Regions from separate parts of the Homo sapiens genome. Here region 2 is linked to region 1. Evidence: fine-mapped expression QTL. A gene starts in region 1. The other region holds a variant in brackets. All regions are shown on one strand. Distances are between the middles of the regions.

Region 1 (2,500 bases):
TAAACACACCTAGAGGTTCAGCAAATGTTGAGAGACAGTGAGAGAAAGAGAGAGGTAGAGAGAAGGACAGAGTGAAGAAGAGAGGAAACGGGTGAGAAAGGAGAAAGGGTGGAAGAGAGAGAAGAGGAAGGAAAGGAGAAAGGAAGGGGAGAAAGCTGTGAGCTCGAACAGCCCAGGGTTGAGGAGAAAAGCACTCTGGAACAGACCTGCCCGATGCCTACCAGTCTGGAACTCAAGTGATTGAGCTTCGTAGTTCTCATCTGAAAAGTAGGGGAATAATGCAATACCCACCACCTAGGCTGACTGCAGAGTTAAATGAGACAATCCAGGCCAAGCGATTACAAGGGTGCCTGGCACTGGCACTCAACACCAACAGCCCAAAATGACTATTATTTGTTCTCATTGTAGCCCCTCCAGCGTCCGGGCACACAGGCGCCTTCAGTAAGCGTTGATTAGACATGACCTGTGACCCAGGCCCGGGACCCCTCACACTTCCAGACTCAGACTCTCCATTTACACGTTTGGAAACCTACCCTAAGCACGGCGTGGGAGGAGGCAGTGTAGGCCCTCGGTCCCTGCAGACCTGGGGAGATTGTGGAGGGAGGAGCGTCCCAGCTCGGGGCTACCACCCACTCCAGGCCTCGGCGTCCTCGGCCACAGCTCCCTCCTGGTGACTCAGCCCGGCGCGGGCCGCCTGTTTGGAGGGATAATGATAGGACAGCTGCTGGGGCCAGCGCCGCGAGGGCCCCTCGCCCGGCCGGCCCGGGAAAAACGAAGCCATCAGATGCCAAGGGGCCGGTCGGCCGGGGCAGGGCAACTCCTGGCCAGGCCAGCTCGAGAGGCCGCGCTGGTCGCCTTTGAGGTGGGGGGCCACTGGCTGCGGATTCCCGAGGGCCACCCAGTCCCGGCCCGGAGCCTCGTCCCACGATATCGCGCCACAAGGAGGGCGCAGGAGCCGGGACAGTCCAGCGGCCGGAGGAGAGGGCTGGAAGGATGTGGCAGGGAAGCCCAGGAGCCCCGACCCCCAGCCGTGAAGTTTGCCACCTGCCCCCGGTCCGGCTCACCACGTCCAGATCCGCCGCCAGGGCCCAGCTTCTGGGTCAAGGCCCGCCGGGTCAGCTGACCGCGCGCCACCGCCCCCGCGGGAACCGCAGGCCCCGCCCCCACGCCGCGCGCTGGGCTGACCGGGCCTGGAGGCGCCGCTGGGGCCGCGCCTGTTGTCCCCGCCCCCAACTGCCTCCGCGCTCCTCCCCGGCATGGGCGGGGCCCCCGGCTCCCAACGCGCAGGCGCCGCTGCTATGCTGAGTGCCGCGTCTCGCGTAGTCTCCCGCGCCGCCGTCCACTGCGCGCTTCGCTCTCCGCCGCCCGAGGCCCGCGCGCTCGCCATGTCCCGGCCACCGCCACCGCGGGTCGCCTCGGTGCTGGGCACCATGGAGATGGGGCGCCGCATGGACGCGCCCGCCAGCGCCGCGGCCGTGCGCGCCTTTCTGGAGCGCGGCCACACCGAACTGGACACGGCCTTCATGTACAGCGACGGCCAGTCCGAGACCATCCTGGGCGGCCTGGGGCTCGGGCTGGGCGGTGGCGACTGCAGAGGTAACAGTAGCTGCAGATCCTCCCCATGCATCGTGTAGAGCTGAGCCTGTCCCCAGCCGTGCACCACCCCGCTCGGGCCCGGCCGCGGGCAGCACCGACGGATTCGTCCCTCGCTCCCCACCCCAGGTCCACCCCGCAGCTCTGGGAACCCCGGGACAACTAGACAGTGCTTTGCCCTGACTCCTTTCCCCCACTCTCCTTCCCTTGGGAGTTGCAGCGCGAGAGTCTCCCCCCAGCCTGGTCTGACCCATCGCTTCCCACCTCCATTGATGCCCCCGCCTCCAAACCTGCCAGGTGCCCACAACCGGTCCCCACCCAGGCTCTCCCCCTTTTCTCTACCCCTTCGTTACCATCATCACGCATGCACACCCTGGGCACCCTTTTCTCATCCTGGCCTTTTCTTAACCACTAGAATTTGACCTGTGCAGCTGGCAGTACCTCTGCCTCTCTCAGGGAGAACTGTGGCGATGCCGTAAGGCTGGCTGGGAGAGTAGGAGTGTTAGGGAGTGCGGACGGGTCAGGGTGTAGGGACTTTCTATCCACTCTATGCCAGGCTTTGACTTGGGGCCATAGGAGGGAAAGTGATTCCAGCCCTCCACAGGGAGTTCAGAGTCTAATGAGGAAGATTGAAGTAATGATTGCTGGAGAGCCCAGAAGAGAGAGTACTTTAGGGAGCTGCAGGCCGGGGAGAGGCACTAGGGAAGGCTCAGCAAATGCTGGATGGAGCTCAGCCTTAAAGGCTCAATGGTAGGTTGGAGGAGAACAAGAGAAAGGAACATTAGAGTCTGTGCAAAGACTTGGTTTGGAAATGCAATGTGCGTGATGTGTGAAAGGAAGGCCACTGGGCAGGTGGGGCTTGAGTGGAGGATGGAGGGGACTGTCCCTCGTGAGCCTGGTGCCCTTG
Region 2 (2,936 bases), 27 kb after region 1:
GCGGGCTCCACTATGCCCAGCTAATTTTTGTGTTTTTATTAGAGATGGGGTTTCACCATGTTGGTCCAGCTGGTCTTGAACTCCTGACCTTCTGATTTGCCTGCCTCAGTCTCCCAAAGTGCTGGGATTACAGGCATGAGCCACGGCGCCTGGCCCTGAATTTCATTTCTCTTTCCTCTCAGTGAAAATTGATACCAAGGCCATTCCACTGTTTGGGAACTCCCTGAAGCCTGACAGTCTCCGGTTCCAGCTGGAGACGTCACTGAAGCGGCTGCAGTGTCCCCGAGTGGACCTCTTCTACCTGCATATGCCAGACCACAGCACCCCGGTGGAAGAGACACTGCGTGCCTGCCACCAGCTGCACCAGGAGGTGAGGGGACCCCTGAGCTCTGGGAGGTGGTCCACTGCTGCTCTCCTTATCCTGATCCTAATGGTGAGAGCAGAGGCACCAGGGCTGTTCCAGGGTGGAGCAGGGAACAGCCCAACTCCCAGGGGCCCCACCCTGGCCTCCCTTTCCTGGTCTGGGCTGCACTATGTTCTGACTGGAGCCTCACCTGAGCAGGGCAAGTTCGTGGAGCTTGGCCTCTCCAACTATGCAGCCTGGGAAGTGGCCGAGATCTGTACCCTCTGCAAGAGCAACGGCTGGATCCTGCCCACTGTGTACCAGGTGAGAGCCAGGGCTGCAGAGGCCAAGGTCTCCAGAACTCCTGCTCATCCTGGGCTGTCTTTGCCCCTCTGACTGCCCCCTGTGCCCTCTGCATAGCAGCCACTCCCCTGCTGAAAGCCTGCAGATGGCTCCCAGGTACCCTCAGGATGCCATTCAAGCTCCTCAGGCTGGCCACTGGGCATCTGCTTCCTTCCTGCCTATCTGTGCACCTTGGACCCTTCCTTCCCTACCTTCCCCTGCACTCAGCCTGGAACAAGCCCTTCCCCCACCACCGCCCCTTCCGTGAGAGAATGGTTCAGGTCTCACATACGTGTCTCTTCCTCTGGAAGCCTTTCTAGATGGGCCCAGAAGACCCTGAGACCTCAGGTCCTTGTTTACCTCCTCATGATTCATTGCACAAATATTTGCACACCTGCTTGGTGCCAGGCACTGGTCACAGAACTTTCTAGTCTATTATGATTGCCTCATGACTTGATTATAACTGTTTATACTTGACCTTATTATAAAACCTTGAGGGAAGGGACCCTGTCCTTTTGGCTTAAGAATCTAAATCTGACAACCAGCCCATAGTTGGTGCTCATGAAAGTTGGCAGAATGAATGAATTTTCCATGGGCATAAGCTTCTTTCACCAGCACCAGTTAGAATAAGTATACGCCCAGACGGTTAAAGTCCTAGAATTGTTAAGGTCTGAAATAAGGGTTCTGGAAGGGTAATTTTGAAGTCTCTTCTTTTGACACATCCACCCTCTCCCCC[G/A]GGGCCCCTCTCCTTACAGGGCATGTACAATGCCATCACCCGGCAGGTGGAAACGGAGCTCTTCCCCTGCCTCAGGCACTTTGGACTGAGGTTCTATGCCTTCAACCCTCTGGCTGGTACGTGGAGCATTCCTGGCCCTGTCTCAGCCTATTCCCGACCCACAGATGCCCAGCCCAGGACCTGGGAAGCAAGGAGGGTTTGACAAACTTTGACCTCTGAGGTCAAAGACGTAAAGGCTGCATCTTCAGCCCTCCTGGGTCCCTGCCCCTCCCCTAGACCAGAGCCCTGAGGGATGTGGCAGCTTCTGGGGCACTCTAGGCCCCGGGGCTGATTGCTGCTTTCCCTCAGGGGGCCTGCTGACCGGCAAGTACAAGTATGAGGACAAGAATGGGAAACAGCCCGTGGGCCGCTTCTTTGGGAATACCTGGGCAGAGATGTACAGGAATCGGTAAGCTGTGGGTGCTTGGTGTGGATGGCTGGGGTGGGGTCAGCTTTATGTGGAATGAAGTCCTGGGCTGCTCCTGGGGTAAGGCCTTTCCTCGCTGCTGCACCTACTCCCCTGAATTTCTTCGGGAATTTCCAAACCCTCCATCGGTTTTCTTGTTGTCTTGGGACCTCCAGGAGGAAAGGAGACTCCCTGGACCTCGGGGTCTTGAAGTCGTTGCTCTTTCCTGAGCAATCACCTGCTAGGAAGGAAAGAAGGAGCTCTGGAGGGAGGTCCAGGAGGCCTGGGGCTGAGTCCTGACCCATCTTAGCGGCCTTTGTGTCCCTAAGGAAAATAAGAGCAGGCTGATGAGTCCTCAGGAATAAAGATTTGTTGAGGTCTCTGCTGAGGGGCCCAGCATCCTGAGTGGTTCTCTTGCCCAGCAAAGTGGGAGACCCATGGCTAGAGAGAACACCTGCCCCTCAGGGCTGCAGGGTGTGGGGTGGGACAGTGGCCCTGGTTGGCTCTTTGGTTGTGGCTCCCAATGTGGCCCTGACACCTGTGCCACCGTCCCCCCTTCCCAGCTACTGGAAGGAGCACCACTTTGAGGGCATTGCCCTGGTGGAGAAGGCCCTGCAGGCCGCGTATGGCGCCAGCGCCCCCAGCATGACCTCGGCCACCCTCCGGTGGATGTACCACCACTCACAGCTGCAGGTAACCAGTGACCCTGTGCGCTCAGCTTCTTCCCTTCCAGGGGAACCAGCAATATCTTTAGATGAAGGCTGAAACATTTGTTTATCGATTCCTCTGAAATTTCTCTTTCTTTCAACTCTCACAAACATTCTTCCCACTGGTCTTTTTCTATGTTTTTTTTTTGGGGGGACAGAGTCTCACTCTGTCACCCAGGCTGGAGTGCAGTGGCATGATCTCGGGTCACTGCAACTTCTGCCTCTTGGGCCGAAGCAACTCTCTTGTCTCAGCCTCCCCAGTAGCTGGGATTACAGGCGTGCGCCACCATGCCCAGCTAATTGTTTGTATTTGTAGTAGAGACAGGGTTTCACCATGTTGCCCAGGCTGGTCTCAAATTCCTG

Evidence for each region. PIP is the estimated chance that this variant, and not a neighbour inherited with it, causes the effect.
Region 2: its variant is fine-mapped to the expression of AKR7A2 in lung (GTEx, PIP above 0.99). The same link has a PIP of 0.9 or more in sigmoid colon and substantia nigra.

The regions. Positions count from the first base shown.
Region 1 is chr1:19,310,923-19,313,422 of GRCh38, reverse strand. It overlaps AKR7A2 (aldo-keto reductase family 7 member A2), which reads left to right and starts at 1,279. Exons shown (of 7, transcript NM_003689.4): 1 at 1,279-1,596. The coding sequence starts at 1,299. SLC66A1 (solute carrier family 66 member 1) reads right to left here and starts at 1,097. Exons shown (of 8, transcript NM_001040125.2): 1 at 534-1,097. RefSeq lists silencers at 788-877, 958-1,597 and an enhancer at 1,189-1,688.
Region 2 is chr1:19,283,619-19,286,554 of GRCh38, reverse strand. AKR7A3 (aldo-keto reductase family 7 member A3) reads left to right here. Exons shown (of 7, transcript NM_012067.3): 2 at 183-370; 3 at 563-667; 4 at 1,441-1,537; 5 at 1,770-1,869; 6 at 2,430-2,559. Among named protein-coding and RNA genes, the nearest start is that of AKR7A3, 3.7 kb to the left of the region's middle. RefSeq lists an enhancer at 2,053-2,928. The variant G/A (reference allele first, on the strand shown) is at 1,422.